Regions from separate parts of the Homo sapiens genome. Here region 2 is linked to region 1. The links come from fine-mapping of genetic effects on gene expression. A gene starts in region 1. The other region holds a variant in brackets. All regions are shown on one strand. Distances are from middle to middle.

Evidence for each region.
Region 2: its variant is fine-mapped to the expression of DIO2 in sun-exposed skin (GTEx, PIP 0.94).

Annotation. Positions count from the first base shown.
Region 1 is chr14:80,206,004-80,216,397 of GRCh38, reverse strand. It overlaps DIO2 (iodothyronine deiodinase 2), which reads left to right and starts at 4,894. Exons shown (of 2, transcript NM_013989.5): 1 at 4,894-5,147. The coding sequence starts at 4,926. DIO2-AS1 (DIO2 antisense RNA 1) reads right to left here and starts at 4,979. Exons shown (of 9, transcript NR_038355.1): 1 at 4,910-4,979.
Region 2 is chr14:80,285,732-80,296,125 of GRCh38, reverse strand. The region is part of intron 2 of DIO2-AS1 (DIO2 antisense RNA 1); the gene reads right to left. Among named protein-coding and RNA genes, the nearest start is that of DIO2, 79 kb to the right of the region's middle. The variant A/G (reference allele first, on the strand shown) is at 4,820.

The sequences.
Region 1 (10,394 bases):
CTGTTCTGTGGCCTCTGTGAAATGCGGTGGTGGCTTTCATCCAGATACCGGACAGCTGTTGCCTCACAAAGAGCATCGCCACAATTAGCATTAACTGGCTCTTTGTTGGTGGCCTCCACTGGCAACTCATTGAATCTTTTCTTTCCCTGCCTATCTCCTACCATCTTTATCTCCCTTTTTCTCTTCATTTTTGCTTTCCCTCTCCTTTTTATTTCCTTTGTCTTTTTCTCCCCCTCTGTCTTACCAGTAGGTAGCCTGGAAAAAAAAGAGAAGCAACAGTTCCTGAGGGAAGAATGCATTAACAACTCGGATGGGTGCTGTCTGCCAGCACTGCAGAGGAACCTACGGAGAGGGCTGCTGGGAGAGAATGCTCATACCTCCCAAGGCGTCAGCCTGCCCTCCCGCCCCCAAGTTGCTTTGCTCAAGGTGTGTCAGAGTTTACTCTGGGATTGTGTATTTTATCCATTGAGCTTCTCCTTTCATCACAAGGCAGAGAACACGGCTGTGTTTGTGGAATGGATGGGCCCACAGGGAATTTTGAGTGATTCAGTAGTTGTGGTGTAAGCCGTTCGTCATAACTCCCTGTCAGGCAGAGTCACTGGAGGCAGTAGGTTATACAGTTTGTGATTCCTTGCTCTGATAAGAGCGGCGCTGTTTTAGGCGTTATGTATGGCAACCATATTCTCAAATCCAAAATCAGCATGCCTGCTGTTTCCAGACATTTTTGGATTTATAATGTGTTTATTTGACATGTTTTTAAGAAAGTAAAAATGAAATGCCATTTTTTAAATTATGCACTTGACAAATCACTGGAATTAGAAAGAATAAAATTCCACGAAACAAAGGCAGCTTGAAAGTCCATGGTATGAGTTGTTAACATGACAGAACTGTCTGGATGCTCTTCTGCTCTTTCAAATAAGAATAAGGAAATAGTAATGGCAACTGTTGTGCTTAAAATTTCCAAGTCTGCTTTCAGATTATCCAACTTTATTTTCTCAATCTCAATTTTAGAGTCAAGAAGAGGACTAAAGAAAGTCTTGTGACTCATATGCTTGTTATTTTCCAACCAGAAAGAGGCAACAGTAGGACATGATGCTCTTTTACTATGGGAATATAAAAAAGTTAAACAATTTTGCAAAGGTTTTTTCATAAAAAGCCCAAAGCATTTTGCCCTAGGCTGCTTCTCTTTGGAATTTAAAACCCGTGTGGAATATCGTATGGGGAAATGCAACCGACATGCCCCTCGTTGGTTTGCATTTAACTCATTACATGTTGATTGCTAAGAACACATACATGACCAAGAAGATAGCCAAGCCCTTTGAAAGAACATATGAAATCTAAACAAGGAGCCTGAGTCGGGACAGTCTTAAACAGATGTGAAGTCCTCACAGCCTTTGCCATTTTGAAGATTAAATTACTAGCAAACCACTTTCAACAAGGGTTTTGGTTCTCATAGTAATGACCAGGACCCATAACAGACATTAAAGAAAAAAAGTGAGGCTTATTTAGAGTTAGGGAAAATATCCCAACACCCGCTTGGACTCCCTAATTTTGGTAATCTGCTTTCTCTCATCTATATGATGGGAAAAGTCATACTCTGTCACCTTAGGATTATTCTGTTACTTAATGAGTATAAAATTACTTGAAAATCAATGTGGTAAATATTCTTAATAACTGGAATGAGCAATTGTGCACCATGCATAAAAAAAGAAATAGCTTTGGAGAAATGTAATTTCTTGGATGGACAGATTGTCTATCTGCTAGAGGAATGGCCCTCAGTTTTGTGATGTGTTTATCGTTCATTTAGAAAAATGATTGAAGAAATCTGAGAAATGACATAACCAGATTGGCTGTGTATCTTTTTGTTCTCCTATTTAAAAAAAAATTCCCTTCAAACACTTCTAACCTCAATAAATAAATAAATAAAAAGAAACAAAAGCCCCCAACAGAGTCCTAATTCTAACTTATAACCACTTAAAGTCTGGATATGCTTTGAACTTCACATTTAAAAGAAAGGTTTTTCTGATTTTCTATCAATCCCTCTCCTTAGCTTGCCATTTACAAACATACTTTCCTCCTTCAGAGCAAAAGCAAGTGAGAGAGAATTGGTTTAAAGCTGCTGAAGTCTCCACTGCAGGGGAGCACTGGTTTAATTCAATCAAGGTAGAATGAAGGTCTGAGAAGGGGAGAGATTCTAAGGCCTGGGCAATTGAGTGGAAGCAGCATTTCCTGAGTCTACACCTCCTTCTGCCATTGTTGGTGGGAACTATGGCAATATAGCTTTCACATCTCCACCAGTTAAAATACTGTGCTATCAACTCCCTGCCTTTGTTCTTTCTTTTTTCCCATAAGGACATTGAGTAGTTTGAGAAGATACATGCAGTAAATGTACATTGCATATATTAGTAATATTATTTTGCTAACATTGTATGCTAGTCATAGGGAAGGTGTAATTTTTCTATGTGGTTTATATTATTTTTCTAAGCTTTGAAGTCTTTTAACAATTTCGTCCATGAGATGCAAATTCAAAACTCATTAGGAGCCAAACTAATGAAAAAAATGAAAGAATTTGTAGGGAATGCTGAGGGTTGTGTCACAAGAGAGGGCATTGCACAAGGCCACCACGTTTTACAATTCCAGGGCACCCCCATTCACATCATATTGTATGTGAATGGTGCCCCCTAGTGTAGAGCAATGCAGAGGCCCTCTACATGCCCTGTTCATTCATTCATTCAGGACGTCCTCAATGAGCCAACTGTGCGCCAAGCATGGTTCTAGGTGTTGGGGAGGTAGCAGTGAACAAAGTGGACAAGAATCCCTGCTCTCACGGAACCTAAAGGCATTCTTTTTTGATTATTGTTTTTTTAAAGGCAAAAAAGCAACCTGCCAACCAAACAAAATGCATTAATATGCAGAATTCAGCTAACAGGACGACAAATTAATGACTCTTGTCTAGGCTTTTAAATTATTTCTGTGATCATGAAGGTTTTAGCCACATGGAAAAAATACGCAATACGCTAACCACAAGCTTGCACCTACTGCTTAGCTTATGCCTAAGCTCTGGCTACATAGAAAACTCAGCTATCTATTACCCAGTATCTAAAACTCAGTATCTATCACTGAGAAAACTCAGTGATCTATTAGGTAACACAGGATGAAAAAGTAGAATAAAGTGGGGGTCATGCCATTCTGCCAAAGCATTGTCTGCCTAAATACCTGTCCTAAAGACTCATGGGAGAGGCAAGCCAATGAACAATGGTCAATGTGGCACCTTGAACCAATTCAGTCGGCTCTTAACTTCCCATACATTTAATTAAAATTTTTTTCAAACAAAAAGGAAGATTCCTTAAAGTATCAGGTCTCTTAGGGGTTATGCTAACAGAAGCAGGTGAAACACCAAATTTAAAGAGCTTTCATTAATAATTTCTCAGCCTTATGGCTTCTTAATGCTATTCAATGGAAAGTTTTAATTTTATCTGCAAAATGAAGCTAAAAGAATGTCGCCTAGCTCCTTCCCTGTCTGGAGGAACTTGGATTTTTTTTTTTTTTTTCATTAGAAGCTTGGGTAAAACTAAAAAGAAACCTGTATTCAAGTTTCTGCAAGAAGCTTTAAAGAAATGCTGGGATGGTACTCAAATAGTTTACAAGTTTTCCACCTACAACTCATTTTGCATTTTCTTAAATAAGATAATGACTCAAAAAAATTTAAAGGACCTAGGTCACAGATCTTACAAAGGGTTGGAGTCATGGTATAAAGGTATAAAGATTGTATATAAATGTTCATATTTTCCAAGAAACAGAGCAAAGACCGCCTGTGATAACTCTTCCTTTTTTCTACCTGCCTTCCAGGATCCTTTCTTTCCAAAACCCCTCATAAATTAATGATAATGATAATCAGAAGAGAGAGTGTTGGCCATATCAATCTGCACATTATATTAAATTACTTTTCCCAAAGTTTGGAAGCATTTCCTGAAGGCTGTCAAGGGTATTAGTTTTTTTCTCTCTTTAAATCACAAAGCAAAATTCCACTGTCTCTCCCCAACCCCTTCTAAAAAAAAAAAGTTGTCGAGTTTTGCTTTTCTATTCACTGCAATCCTGGCCAAAGTAAAGCCCTCTTTCTCAATGACGTCAAGATCTTTACCAAGATTAGGCTTTCACTTCTCTATTGCAGCAATTAGCCAGGGAATGTATAAAAGGCGTCAGGGAGACTCACTGGGCTGCAGAGAGAGGCACTTTGCACCACAGACAGATAGCAAGAAGGGAAAGACAGAGAGTGAGAAAAAAGAGGAGTCAGTCGCTCCTGGGGAAGGGAGAGAGTGAGACTGGGAGAAAGAGAAGCACAGAAAGTGTGTGTAAAACGGAGTAAAGAAAGAAAAAAAAAAAACTACCCTTAAAGCACATTTAAAAAAAAAAAAAACTCTGGCAATTCAAGAAAGAAACAGGCTACGTTTAAAGAGCATAGAGACAATGAAAGGCTAAAGAAAATTTTAAAATCTCTGCCACAGTCTCATAGGTGCTTGGAAATGAAAGTAGAACTGCCTGTCTTTAACGGACTCTGACAGAGGTAACTGGATTAGGGACGAGTACGCCAGCTTTTTTTTTTTTTTTTTTTTTTTTTTTTTAACATCTTAAATCCTGAAAAAAAAAAAAAAAAAAAAAAAAAGGCAGCAGCTCCGAATTGAATGAATTGATGGGCACACTCCAACTGCTGGGCTGGAGAGACTGGACTTAGTCTTGCCATTTCTGCTTCTTTGAAAGAGGAGACAACTTGGGCTTCCTTTTAATTTAGTTTTTTTTCCCCTTCTCCCCCAACCCCCAACCTTCCCCCTTACCTCCCCCACCCCCTTTATCACCACCCCCCTTTTAAATAAGAGGGTGAAGGGGAACCAGAGCGCACAAGGGAACTGACTCAGGAGGCAGAGAAGATGGGCATCCTCAGCGTAGACTTGCTGATCACACTGCAAATTCTGCCAGTTTTTTTCTCCAACTGCCTCTTCCTGGCTCTCTATGACTCGGTCATTCTGCTCAAGCACGTGGTGCTGCTGTTGAGCCGCTCCAAGTCCACTCGCGGAGAGTGGCGGCGCATGCTGACCTCAGAGGGACTGCGCTGCGTCTGGAAGAGCTTCCTCCTCGATGCCTACAAACAGGTGAGCTGAGCTGAGAAGGGCTTCTCCCTAGGTCTACAGGGGCAGGGGCTCATATGCTGGGGACCAGAGGCCATTGGGAGCATTGGGGGGAGAGCTGTGAAGCCCTATTTGTGGGGTTGCCAAGTGAGCCTCTAAGTTTACTTTCCACACCTGTTGCACAGGTTAGCTTGGGAGGGTGACAGCTATTAAGCCATAATGACTCTGTGTGACCTAATAAGGAATCTTTCTACTAAGGGTTATTAATATCTTGCTGTGATTTGGGAGTAGAAGGCATTGTGCTGGTACGATAACTTGGGAAAAGTCAGAAAATGATGGAGAAGAGGAGACTGCTGCATTTATTCTGCTCTTGCCATAAACTGGAATTTTGATTTTTTGCTTGATGGGAGGCTGAGGTACACTGAGGAAGTATGTTCGAGGGGTGGGTACTGAAAAGCAAGAAATGAGAAATGCTACTCAGAACTCTCAGAGAGTTGACAAGATAAGAAAGTGGTCATAGAAATTGTGATTGGGCATCATAGCTGCTTGGTTTCTGGTAGAGGTAAGAGTTAATGAAAGCAAGCAGCTGTGTGCCACCTCCTCTACATTGATTCAAATTTGAACCCTTTGGAAGCGATTTTCAGGCAGTGATCCTGAGTTACTAGATATCAACTTGCGAAAGAAAAGTCTGAAAACTAGCTGTCAGAAATCCAGCATTTGTAAGGGAAGCCTCCTTTACTTTGTTTCTCAAAAATAAAATACGTTGCCCTAGAAAGAGATGATGGGTCTGTGATTCATTAAATCTCAGAGCTGTTATGAGCATTAGAGCAGTGGTCTCCCTTACCTGCTCAGGTAGTGCCCAGGGGCTGCTCTCTCAAAATCAGAGGTAGTGATCTTAGTTTCTAAGTGAAAAATACTGTGTTCCAGGCTTTTTGCTGGTGAGAGATGTTAGTAGAGCATTTTCAACTAAGATCTTCAGGGGCACAGAGGATGATTTTCGCCCTGGTCTTTTGTCAGTTTTCCCCCACCTGCTATGCCCATATGACTTCTAAAGGTCCCCTCCACCCCCTCAACCAGGCTTGAGAAGAATGAACTATTTTGGCAAAAGTAGTTATCAAAATAGACAATCTTGGTTTCCCTAAAAGTGTTGTGGGACCTTGCCCAAGATGCCAGAAAAAGCAACTGTACATCTGTATTTTAGAGGAATATAGAAGCCAGGTGTTCAGTGAAGTGGTGTGTTTTAGGCAGGCAGCACCTTAGAACCAGAGACGGGGAACTCGAAATAATAGAGACGCAAGGGAATGCATCCTCCATAAATAAACACTAGAAAACTAAAACCATGCGCCAAGAAAAGAGAAGAAGTAACTTGTAAAATTACAAAGAATTCAGGACAGGATTGTTCTTCTGAAAATCAGATGTTCAAGAAGAAAATATCTGTTGTGAACTAGGGAAATTTTACCACAATGCACGTCTTTATTATTGATAGTAACCCAAAGAGGGTTTGTGTTTATTGTTGTTAAAAATGTGAATAGTAAGAGCTCTTATTAGTAGATGGAAATTCTTTTATGAGAATATGAATTGGTGCTCAAAGTTCTAACAGTAAAAACTCATTTATATTGTGCATGTCAGTGAGGACGGGAGATCTAGAAAAGTAGATATTGAATTGATTATTTCATTTCCACAAAAGTATACATTGAATGGGAAGTTTTTAATGGTTTGTTTTAGTGGAAGGCAATTTGGAGGCAGGTGGAGGAGTACACAAGTATATCAGACATATTATTAATTAGGAAGTTCCCTCTTCAACATCATATTTTATACGTGTTAGCAGATACCATGGAAATATCAGTGATTTGATCTCAGTATATTAAACTCTTACTTTTTGGAAGGACAATTGCCTTTTGCCTATAAAGTAAAAAAAAAAAAACTTATTGGAAGAATTTTACTTATATACATATATTTCTTATATAAATGTCATGTTTCATTAAGAAAAACATGAAAAACAGTCATCTCTCATATAAACAATGGGGGCTGTAATGTTACCCACAAATATTAAGTGAGGTTGTTTCTCCCATTAAGCAGCTTATTGAACATAAAATGGAAAAGCAAACAAATACGTCTTCAATAAAGTTTATTGTTTTTTTCACCAATGTATAGTGTTCCATTATGTTGCAATATGTTGTTATTCCTATTCTAGGAAATTGGGAAGGATGAGTGATTTGTTTTTTCTTTTTGCATATGGTTTGTATATTCCTATTCTGTATTTCTTTGTCCCTGCCTACTGATTTGATTAGTGACCAAGTTCACGACTGATGTTATTATGTTTGCTTTTGATGATTTATGTAATAGCTACCATGTGCAGAAGCAACCCCAGGACCCACATATCCAGAAACAAGACTGGACTGGGTGTGTGATAAATGGAAACATTATGAACACAGCTGCAACTGAATGATGGTCTCTTTTCTGTCTTCAAGTATGGCAAGGGTGGTGGTTTCTGTGGTGGCATTTGAGGGTCACTCAGAATCTCTCAACCAGGTTGAATCACTTCTCTGAATGCTCTTGTCATTTGTGCCACTGTCTTTGGGTGTAGTCATTTCCAGAGACGTTGTAAGAGGTTCTGTTTGAGATGGCATCACACTATTTCATAACCCTGACTTGCATTATTTTGAGGCTACCCATCCCCAGAAGTGAAGTTTTCCAGGATGAGAGGGGTGTGTGCTCATGTGATACAACTACACATGTGATTTACTGTTATTAATTCTCCTTGTTGCTGCATGTCAGATGCCTGGAAAGATATGTAGAGAAAGTGGAGTAAAAGTATTATCCCTGTGTTTTGCCTCCACAAGGGGCAACACAGAAATAAAGAAAGAACAAAATATTTTCTTTTCTTTTTTTTTTAAATAAACCCTTTCTTAAAAGGTTGAAAGGGATTTGAATTAACTTTATGGAGAAGCCTTTAAAGATAATGTGAGTTTAGTAAGAGATGGATTCTGTGTACAATTTTGATTGAAAGGAAAGTCTATAGACACTGGTGAGAGACCCTGAGGTGAATAAAAGGTGTTTGTTATTTAAGTTTCTTTAGTCAGCGTCATTGCATCTGAACAGTATATCCTTGTGCTGGCGCTCAGAGACTAAAAACATGCAACCAATAAGCAAATTGCTCTGTCTGGGAGCCTGGCTCTTACCTAAATGAAGTGTAAAAGTAAACACACAGTATAGATGCTGACAGGCAGTTTAGCTTCTGCACGGTTAATATTGCAGAGGTACAGAAAACATATTCATTTGAACATATAATTTTGGTTTTGAAAGGGTCTCTTTAACATTCTCCTCCTCCTCTTCATTCACCTCAAGCCTTTGACACTAGTTTCCACAATGGAAAATGGCCCTTTTAAGAGAGAAACAGTCCCAAAAGAACACAAAGCAGGCCACAGCCAGAGCTTGTCCATCACTTGGATAAAACATTGGGGAATGATAGAGCTTAGAGCTACATTTTCAAGGTACAAATTAAAAAGAGAATAGCTAAAAGGGAATTGAGCTCAGAGGAAGGAGTACGTAGCCTATTCTTCAACTCTGATTTATTTGGCCAATCTGAATATAAATGGTTAAATCTCTTCTTAATGATAGTTTGGCCATGTTTCTAAGGACATTGATGTAGCCTGGTCATTATGTCAAAGAATTTGAAACTTCCTGATAGTTAATAAAGCCATTTTCAGGGCTTTGGATAGCAAGTAGTATGTGTGAAAATTCTGCTACCACACACCCACCCTTCATTTTTATAATTTGCTTTAGTTTCTGTTATGAGATTATGTGATATATTGTCCACAAGGCTTTCTCAGGCTGTGGAAAAGAAAAAGAAATAAAATCCCAAAACAAGAAACAAGGTTAGTAGTATATGCTGTATTTTCTGCTTCTACTTGATGAATGGTTCTTTTCTCCCCCTTGCCCTGCATTTCACAGTCCACATGCTAAAGCAGCATTTCCTTTTTCCCCATGCACTGAACACTGAACATCATCAAGGGAATCAAATTTTTATATATGCTATATGTTTATGTTCATGTTCATATTTATAAAGATTTCCATTCCAACATTTGAACTTGGCCCGGAGATGTCTTCTGTTGTAAAAATGCAAATCCTTTATTTACCTCCTTTGTTGGTGTTGTGTTGATGTTGCTTGCAAAAACATAAGAGAGGACCACTGTAATAGTGCAGATGAGAGAGATAAAAGTCAGCGATGACAATATCACATTTTACGTATGTCCTTTCTGATCCTTGCAAAATAAAGGGACCCTTTGGGAACATCGGAACTTCAAGACCAATTAGTGGAAATGATGCTTCTTGTGTTTGGGCATTAAATACTGGGCAGGGTTCTCTTTAGAGCGGCTAATGCTGGCAGGGAAAGAGGTACCGACCTAATTACTCTTCCGCAAGAGTAAAAAATGCCTTTTGAATGCCTCTTTGGCAAATATGTCTCATTAAGGACAAAAACCAAACACAAACCCTCTAAGAAGGAGAAATTAAGATGATAGGTAACTTGTGGCCAGACTTTCTGTGCCACTGTGGGAAATTAAAACAAAGTTTGGGAGTACCAGGGGATAACTTGTTTTTGTTGAGCTTCTTTCCTGCAGCCTAAATGTTATTATGGGACCAACTTTATTTTCTTCATCATTTTGGCTCTGTGTCAAGGAATGCTTTGCTCGTGGGGAGAGCAAAGAATCTTCCATCATCGAAGACAATGGTGATTCTCCCAGCCTGTCTCAGCAGGGTGCATAACCCAGCAAACCAAGAAGTTCTCCATTTGAAACTCTGGTCTATTAGGAATTTAATTTTTATGGTGACCAAATGGGGAGATGAGAATGAACAGTAATATCCTTTTAGAATATTTTCTTTTAGGTTAAAGGAAACTTCCATATCTAAAAAAAGTTTTTTTTCTTTATTTTAGCTAAATTGTCCTCCATCAGGTTTTAGCAAAGATGGACACATTTTATGACTAGTATATGAAGCTTATAAAAGCAGACTACTGGTCTACTCACATTTGGATTTATGGATGGTGGGTGTGTGTTTTTCCTTCTTAGTTTTATTAATAATATTAATTTTATCTATGCATTTTCTCTTGCCTAGGCACCTTCATGAATAAGCATATCCATTTATGACATTATAACATTCAGTAAGGGACCCTGGCTCCTCAACAAAATAAAAATAATAGGCCACATTTGTTTTGTGCACTGACCAGATGAGACTGTCAAGGACAGATCAATAACATTGAGTGCTGATTTT
Region 2 (10,394 bases), 80 kb before region 1:
ACCTTGGGTGATCCCCCGCCTCGGCCTCTGAAAGTGGTAAGATTACAGGCATGAGCCACTGTGCCCGGCCTTTAAAGCTTTTTAGCTTGAAATTACACTAATGTATTTGCTTTGTAAAATCATTCGAATTGGCAACTTCATGTTTAATCTTTCTTCCACCCTCAACTTTCCTTTCTGTCTGAGAGAATGCTGTTACTGGTGGCCATACTTTGGAAATCCTGCCCACACCACTTACAAGCTAGGTGACTTTGGGCTATTCTTATAACCTCCCTAAGTCTTAGTTTCTCATCTCTAAAACGCAGATGATAATAATAATAACTTACGGAGAAATGTAAGGATTAAATGAGATGATGCATATATAGTTCTTTGCATATTGTATGTTTTTTTAAAAAGTTAGCTATTGTTATACTTGTCATCACTCACATATTAAAAGTTCTTTTGTATCTTAAATATGATCTGTGCTTTGTAGTTCATATTTACTTGGTTCTATATCTACATGTCTAACTATATAATATATGTTATGTTATCTTGGCATAAATTTTCCAAACCATTCTGATTGTTCTTTACTTACATTTTTTCCCTAACTACCTACCACCCTATTTTTCTTTTCTCATTGCCATATACCTTGGAGGTGTAGTCAATATTAATAGGTCTCTGTTAAAAATGTTAGAGTTCCTTATCTCTGAAAAGATTGTGGTACTCACAGTCTCAATACTCACCCATATACAAATCAAAATAAAATTGTACTTTTTGAAATAACACAAAATCCAATCATAACTAATGCTAGCTTATATCTAAAAATATGAGTTTTGATGATGAAGTTAAGTATATTTTTCATTTTGTGATTATAAATTTCTGGCTCAATTCACTGTACCAGATTTTTTTACTTTTTGAAGGGGCAACTGTTATGCTACTATTAGTCTCTGTATCAAGTAAATCAGCCTCAGTAAATCAGCCTGTATCAAGTAAATCAGCCTCAGAAGCCAGTTGCCGTCATTTCTTTGGGACACACACAATTACACATGTATACACATGTGGTACTGTTTGCATATGCAGCATATATATTGTCATGCTTCATATATGTCAATATATATGTCAGCATGTCTATATATGTCATATGACATGACATATATGTCAATATATATGTCAGAATATATATTCACATACTTCAAAGTGTGTGAAGTATGCATGGAGGAATATAATAAAGATTTCCCTCTTACATCTGACATTTGGAGCAGGTTTTTTGGTTAGTTTCTCCACATCTCCTTTCCTTGTCTGTAAAAATGGGATCATAACAATATTTGTTTCTCAGACCGAGTTGCTATGAAGATCGGGAATAATTATGCAGGTAACACCATTGCAGAAGTTACTAGGCACTGCATAAACCTCGGCGAATTAAATTTAAATATGGCGCAATGATACTTTCTTTGTCTCGTTAAACTATTTAGATATGAGATCAAGGTCGGCCTTGAGTAATTGTTACCTACATCTCTTCTGTTGTTCAGCAACATGTTCCTGGCTGCTTAGTGAGCACACTCTCTCTTTCCCACCAGAAGATATGAGTGCCAATATGAGTCTTAATTCAAGACAAGGAAAAAGCCAATTGACAGATGTAAAAATAGTATTCATTTCACAGACCTGTTTGGAGGTTTAAATGTGATTATTTCTAAAGTATTCACTGTACTGCTCAGTACATAAGAAATGCTAAATAAATAGGGCTCTACTGATTGTTATTGAAAAACATTTTTGGAAGCAAAGTCTATTCTAAGTTTTGGTCAAGTTAGACTTGAGGTTTAGAATTTAAAAAGTGAGGGGGAGAGACCGACTGAGGTGAAGGCAGCCAAAGTTAACATGGAGACAGGCATAGCATGTATAGGGAATAATGTTGGTTCACATCATGTTCATGCACAGTGATTAGGAATAGCTAAGGTTATTCGTGGTGGCTCATGCCTATAATCCCAGCACTTTGGGAGGCCGAGGTGGGAGGATCACAAGGTCAAGGAGACTGAGACCATCGTCGCTAACACGGTGAAACCCTGCCTCTACTAGAAATACAAAAAAATTAGCCGGGCGTGGTGGCACGTGCCTGTAGTCCCAGCTAATTGGGAGGCTGAGGCAGGAGAATCACTTGAACCCAGGAGGCGGAGGTTGCAGTAAGCCGAGATTGCGCCACTGCCCTCCAGCCTGGGTGACAGAGTGAGACTACATCTCGAAAAAAAAAAAAATACTATAACCTCTCATTGCCTCTTATGGAGGTTGGATAATATAAATTAAAAGATTTTTATTGTTGTGGGTATGATGAAGTTTGAGGTACAATTTAGGAGTGGTTCTTGAGGCAGAGCTGAAACCTTCAGCAATTTAAAGGGGAGAGGTATATGAAGATTCTGGGAAAATTAGGAAGATAAAATAAAAGAATTGACAAGATTGAGTAGCATGTGGTAAAAGACGATAAGAGGAAAAATCCTAATAGTGATTTGGAAAAGAAGACAAATAATGGGAGCATTTAAAGGTTTTGGTGCAATATACAATTTAAATCTCTTCCTCCATCTTCCCTACCGAATCTTCAGTAAAATCTGAACTGCTCATAAATGTGCATTGAGTGTTTAGTGCCATAGATTGTATTTTTGTGTCTTCCCCAAATTCATATGTTGAAGGCTAACTCCCAATATGATGGTGTCAGGAGGTGGGGTTTTTGGGAGGTGATTAGGTTATGTGGGCAGAACCTTCATGAATGGAACTAGTGCCCCTAAAAAAGAGACCCTAGAGAGTTCCTATGTTCCTTTTACCATATGAGAACTCAGTGAGAAGGCACCATCTATGAACCAGGAAGCAGGCCCTCACCAGACACCTAATCTGCCAATGCCTCGATCTTGCATTTTTCAGCCTGCAGAACTGTGAGAAATAAATTTCTGTTTTTATACACCACCAAGACTAGGAATTTTTGTCACAGCAGTCTGAATGAACTAAGACATAAGAAAAAAATTATGAGAAAAAAGTTATAAGATGCAGAGGTACCTTTGATACAAAGGGACCACAAAGCTGGTACATTTGAAAACATTTGGGTTACACCGTCTTTACCTGTTCATTTTACTTGGATTTATTCCTGTTTCTCAGAGGCTTTTATTGCACAGAGCAGACATTCTCATCCATTGCTTTTTTATATACAGGTCTGAAGTCACTTTCAAGTTAGGGTCTGGCCCCTAGGAGCCCTAATTCTACTTTAAATTGCCCTAGAACATGCATGCTACATTGATGGGAGGCTTTAGATGTATAGCTCAAGAAATAAGGAGGCAAGATTGTAGTGATGGTGGCAGTGATAGTAGCCACTATCACTTTTGCTACTGGCTATAGAGAAAATTGTAGTGTAATGGTATAATAAAAAAATTCATGTAATTTTTAAGTTAGATCTATTTGAATTTGAATCAAGGATTTGTCATTGTTTGCAGTGTGACTTCAATTAACTTACATAACTTCTCTAAAACATAGGTGTTCTCATCTCATCCCTTTACTCATAAGGTTGTGAAAGACTCACAAAAAGAGGTAACAGTAGTGGGAGGGAAACAGGTTGAAAGATTACTGTAGAAATTATCACTGACTATTTAAGCTAAAGATATATTTTGTTGAATTTAATGAAGTAATACTCCTCTAAGCTAAATATTTTGTAAAACAGCATTCATTCTACGATATATCAAAAGAATGATACACGCTAATAAATGTTTATTTACTCTCTTTCATAAGAAAGTAATTTTTTATAATCAATGAAGTTTTCTGGTATTTTTATTTTAGTTGTGAATAATCTGATAAGTTTACATATGATTTGGATATTCATACTAGCATTATCGACTGCCTCGTATATAAAACTCAATTAAAAAAATGATTCATTACTAAGCTACTGAGAGGATAAACAACTTGCCAGTTTCTTTAGGCATAATCTTTTAGATACTGATAAGTTAACCATTTCTAAAACCAGTTATAAATTTTACAAAATAGCAGTAGGGGTATGCTATATTTGCAAATGTATTCTTATCTTAGAATTTTTGTTATTCAATTAGCACATCAACTTAAGATATAGTTCAAGTACTAAGATGTTCAGGAACCACTGAACAATTTTCTGGACAAAGAACATGAAATTACTAATTTCCTCCAGTCAGCTTCACAGTTCCAGTGCATCTGGAGCTAGGATCATCCAACCAATTTGAAAATAAAGTAATCACAATATCTCCGCCAATATTTTCTGTCTTAATGGAACTAAGGATCCTGGCTAACACTTTGCATTTAGCTGTTACAAGGCAAAAATTTTAAAATTTATCTTCTATAACTGGCTAAAATAATAAATATGATGGTGCTTTAAAAATGTAATGGATAATAATAGCTTATTTTTTTGAAAAGCCTTCATTGAAGAAAATGGTCATTCCAGTCTTTAAACTTTATGAAATAACCAGGGGGGCTACAAAAAATTATTTTCAAGCATCTCAATGCATGATATTTGTTTAGCTGTGGGATTATCTGTAAAGTTACTGTTCATATTAAAAAGGATAATCAAAGGCTAAAGATACTGAAAGATCCCCTGGGCAATCAATATATAATCATTTAGTAAGTAAATGAGAAATTAAAAGGCTTATACAATAAAGCATCTTCTTTCCAACTAAAATTTAAAAATTGCTTTAACACAGACTAAAGGATAATTAATAGAACCCATTACTAAGAGTGGATGGCCTGACCTAATACTTTAACAAGCATATTTATTCATCTTCAAAGCCAAGAGAAAATGCTTTTGAAACTAGGTCAAAGAGGGAAGTGGTTTTTCTTAGACTATTGT[A/G]TAATCTGATATTACTTGACTTCTATATTGTTGAGTAACAGACCACAACAAAGGTATCGTGTGACTTGTTTACATTTCAATGAAACACATACAAGGCTTTATTTCATTCTATAGAGTTGAGAATTTATGTGATTCCTTTACAGTTGATTCCAGACCAATTTTAAGACCTTTAATGGCCATAGGTTTTTTGATTTTTGAAGGTCTTATCTCAAGCAATTTTTAATATATTAAAGTTAAAATGATCACAAACACTGAATGTAACCTTGTTGTAATGTTTTTGAAATTGCTGTGTTATTGCTGCCAACTACTTATAAAGTACAACCATATCTCTTTAACTTTTTATCAAATTCAAAATAATTAGCCATTTATTATAACCATGATAGTTTATATCTAATAAAAGATATCAAAGAGTTAACCTCTTACAGATTCAATGCAATCCCTAACAAAATCCCATCTAGTTATTTGTTTTTTGGAGAAATTGACAACCTGATCTTAAAATTCATATGGAAATTCAAGGGGATCAGACTAGCCAAGACAATCATGAAAAAGGTATATGAACTTGGAGGACTTATACTTCCAATTTGAAAACCTGCTATAGTAAGTTACAATAATCAAGCCAGTGTGGTACTGACACAGGATAAATACATAGATCAGTGGAATAAAATTAATAATATAGAAATTAATCTAGTATTTTTGGTTAATTGATTTTTGGCAAAGGGGCGAGTCAATTCAATGGGGGAAAGAATACTCTTCAAGAAATGGTGCTGGTACAACTGGTTATCCATTTGCAAAAAGATGAATTTAGGGTCCTACATAATGTCATACACAAAAATGAACTCACAGTAGTGATTGCAGACCTAAATGTAAGTCCTACAACTAAAATAAAAGTAAATCTCTGCGTTAGGCAGTGATTTCTTAGGAATGAAATCAAAGCATGGGTGATAAAATAGAAAATTGGTAAATTGAACATCAAAATTAAGACTTTTATGCTTCAAAGAGCACCATCAAGAAGGTGAAAAGACAACCCACACTATAAAAGGAAATATTTGCCCATCATGTATCTGATAAGGGACTTGAATCTAGAATATATGAATTCTTACAATAATAGAACAAGCAAACCAATTTAAAAATGGGCAAAGCATTTGAATAGGCAGTTCTCCAGAGAAATATAAAAATGATAAACACACAAAGTAATGCTCAAAATCATTAGTCATTACTGAAATGCAAGTCAGAACCCCAGTGAGATACCACTTCACATCAACTGAATGGCTATAATAAAAACAGACACAATTGTTAGTGAAAATTTGAGAAACTGGAACTCTTGTACATTGTGACGGTGTTATAAAAGTCGAAGCCATTTTAGAAAATGGTTTAGCAGTTCCTCAAAAGGTTAAGAATAGAGTTACCATATGACCCAGCAATTCCACTCCTAGATATCTACCCAAGAAAAATGGGAGCTTATGTTCACACAAAGAACTATATACAAACATAAATAGCAGCATTATTTGTAATAGCCAAAAAAGTGGTAACAACCAAAATGCTTATCACTTGATGAGTGGAAAAATAAAATGTGGTGTAGCCATATAAGGGAATATTATTCTACAATAAAAACGAATAATATACTGTTATTTGCCACAATATGAATGAACCTCAAAAACCGTGCACTAGGTAAAAGAAGTCAGTCACAAAAGACCAACTAGTGCATGATTTCGTTTATAAGAAATGTTCAGAATAAGCTAATCTACAGAGACAGAAAGTAGATCAGTGTTGCCTAGGAATGAATGGAGGAGTAAGGGAGGAAACAGACAGTGATTGCTAAAGGGCATGCGGTTTCTTTATGGAGTGATGAAAATGTTCTAAAATTAGCTAATGGTGATGATTGCACAACTCTATAAATATACTAAAATCCATTAAATTATATACTTTAAACAGGTGAACTATATGGTATGCAAATTATATATCAGTAAAGCTGTTAAAAATGAGGTAACCTCCAAAACACAATAAAATAAGTGACGTGAATATTTTATGTGATAGCTACTTATACTAATTTTAGCAGCTGTTTTATATTTTCTTCAGAAATAGCCTGAATTTATGATCTACACCTTTCTATTTTTCCTCTAGCTCTCCCTATCTCTATCTTTATCTGTATCTCTCTTTCTATAAGTGAGTCCAGAAAATTAAAATACTATGATAAGATATGTTTTAAAATCTGAGTAACATAGCTACATCTTCTCCTATTTTAATAAATATCACTTTGGGTTATTTTAGCTTAATTTGCACTAAACTCAGAAACCCAATTTTATGTTTATGTTTGATATTGGCAAATCTATTTGACAATTATGAATCTGAGCTGATACTAAATAGTTTCAGATGAATTGTTGCTTTCTGACATTTCTTACTAAATGCTAAGAAAATTCTGGTTATTTTAGGAGATAGGATGAAAGAATTATTTCACCTGGGGAAAGAAAGCTCAATGAGAATCTTCTAGTATTTGAAGGATAGTGGCCAGTTACTCTCTCCCTACTCTGAAAATCATTCCTAGTGACCAGCAAGATGAATTTTTTTAATGCCTGCACAAGAAATTACTAACAGCAAGAATTTGAAACACTGAAATGACTTAGGAAACGTAAGCCTGGGTATTGTTTTCCTCTTGTTCATAGGAAAGAGCCCATCCGTAGGAGGTGCTGCGGGCATAATGGCTAGAGGCAGAGGATTTCTTCAGATGAATCAATTAGGCACTTTTCCCATAATAGTTGTACAGTTACAAAAGGATTCAGTTGCTTTTTTTTTTCTGTAAGTATATATGTTTTTTTTGGTAGGGACAGTTCAATATAGATTAAATATTTAAATTAGATTTGATATGTTTTACATCAGCCATTTCACACCCGAGAACAATTTCCAGTGAAAGAGATCAGTTACACTGATAGCCCAGGCTAGTTTTGAACAAAATTAGGAAGTTAATAGAGTTAGTTGTTCTTTCGTATTACCTTTCTTTTCCTTCTTTCATGAATTATGTCTCTTCCTGGTAGGCAGCATGGTATAGTAGGAAAGCATTATTCCTGAAAACAAAACCCAGTTTCCCACATACAAGTTGTTCATCTGGTCTCAGTTGCTTAACCTGTCTCTGTTTCCTCATATTCAAGAGGAAAATAACCAGTCCTACTTTATTAACCTGGTTTGAGCATTAAATGACACAAAGTAGTAGAAACAGAGAAATGTTTTCTTTCCCTTCCTCTTAAGGCCTCTCTTGTTGTAAAGGAAAGCAGTAAATGTAAACCATCTCAAGATGCTTTTTTTTAAATAGGTTACTCTTTTTCAGGAATATTTGAGTTTAAAAATAGTCTATGTAGAATAAATTACATGTTGGAAGTAAGGAAGGGAGACCCTTGAGAGCAAGGAACATTCTAAGTTATCTTAAATAATAGTATGAAGGTATACATTATTTACACAGGATTTTGGCCAATTTGGTTGTGTTTTCTAATTTTTTTGTTTTGGTTTGGTTTTTTGAGACGGAGTCTTGCTCTGTTGCAAAGGCTGGAGTGCAGTGGCGCGATCTCGGCTCACTACAACCTCTGACTCCCTAGTTCAAGAGATTCTCCTGCCTCAGCCTCCTGAGTAGCTGGGATTACAGGCATGCGCCACCACGCCCAGCTAAGTTTTGTATTTTTTTTCTTTTTTTTTTTTTTTTTTATTGATCATTCTTGGGTGTTTCTCGCAGAGGGGGATTTGGCAGGGTCATAGGACAATAGTGGAGGGAAGGTCAGCAGATAAACAAGTGAACAAAGGTCTCTGGTTTTCCTAGGCAGAGGACCCTGCGGCCTTCCGCAGTGTTTGTGTCGCTGGGTACTTGAGATTAGGGAGTGGTGATGACTCTTAACGAGCATGCTGCCTTCAAGCATCTGTTTAACAAAGCACATCTTGCACCGCCCTTAATCCATTTAACCCTGAGTGGACACAGCACATGTTTCAGAGAGCACAGGGTTGGGGGTAAGGTCATAGATCAACAGGATCCCAAGGCAGAAGAATTTTTCTTAGTATAGAACAAAATGAAAAGTCTCCCATGTCTACTTCTTTCTACACAGACACAGCAACCATCCGATTTCTCAATCTTTTCCCCACCTTTCGCCCTTTTCTATTCCACAAAACCGCCATTGTCATCATGGCCCGTTCTCAATGAGCTGTTGGGTACACCTCCCAGACGGGTTGGTGGCCGGGCAGAGGGGCTCCTCACTTCCCAGAAGGGACGGCTGGGCAGAGGCGCCCCCCCACCTCCCAGACGGGGCGGCTGGCCGGGCTAAGGCACCCCCTACCTCCCTCCCGGACGGGGCAGCTGGCTGGGCGGGGGCTGACCCCCCCACCTCCCTCCCGGACGGGGCAGCTGGCTGGGCGGGGACTGACGCCCCCCACCTCCCTGCCGGACGGGGCGGCTGCCAGGCGGAGATGCTCCTCACTTCCCAGATGGGGCGGCTGCCGGGCGGAGGGGCTCCTCACTTCTCAGATGGGGCGGCTGCCGGGCGGAGGGGCTCCTCACTTCTCAGACGGGGCAGCCTGGCAGAGGCGCTCCTCACATCCCAGACGGGGTGGCAGGGCAGAGGCGCTCCCCACATCTCAGATGATGGGCGGCCGGGCAGAGACGCTCCTCACTTCCTAGATGGGATGGCGGCCGGGAAGAGGCGCTCCTCACTTCCCAGACTGGGCAGCCAGGCAGAGGGGCTCCTCACATCCCAGACGATGGGCGGCCGGGCAGAGACTCTCCTCGCTTCCTAGACGGGATGGCAGCCGGGAAGAGGGCTCCTCACTTCCCAGACTGGACAGCCGGGCAGAGGGACTCCTCACATCCCAGACGATGGGCGGCCAGGCAGAGATGCTCCTCACTTCCCAGACAGGGTGGCGGCCGGGCAGAGGCTGCAATCTCGGCACTTTGGGAGGCCAAGGCAGGCGGCTGGGAGGTGGAGGTTGTAGCCAGCCGAGATCACGCCACTGCACTCCAGCCTGGGCACCATTGAGCACTGAGTGAACGAGACTCCGTCTGCAATCCCGGCACCTCGGGAGGCCGAGGCTGGCGGATCACTCGCGGTTAGGAGCTGGAGACCAGCCCGGCCAACACAGCGAAACCCCGTCTCCACCAAAAAAATACGAAAACCAGTCAGGCATGGCGGCACTCGCCTGCAATCGCAGGCACTCAGCAGGCTGAGGCAGGAGAATCAGGCAGGGAGGTTGCAGTGAGCCGAGATGGCAGCAGTACAGTCCAGCTTCGGCTTGGCATCAGAGGGAGACCGTGGAAAGAGAGGGAGAGGGAGACCGTGGGGAGAGGGAGATGGAGAGGGAGAGGGAGAGGGAGAGGGAGAGGGAGAAGGAGACCGAGAGGGAGAGGGAGAGGGAGAGGGAGAGCAAGTTTTGTATTTTTAGTAGAGACGGGGGTTTCACTATGTTGGCCAGGCTGGTCTTGATCTCCTGACCTCATAATCCGCCCGCCTCAGCCTTCCAAAGTGCTGGGATTACAGACGTGAGCCACCACTCCTGGCCTTTTAAAAATTTTTGTGGGTACATAATTAATGATTATGTAAATAATATA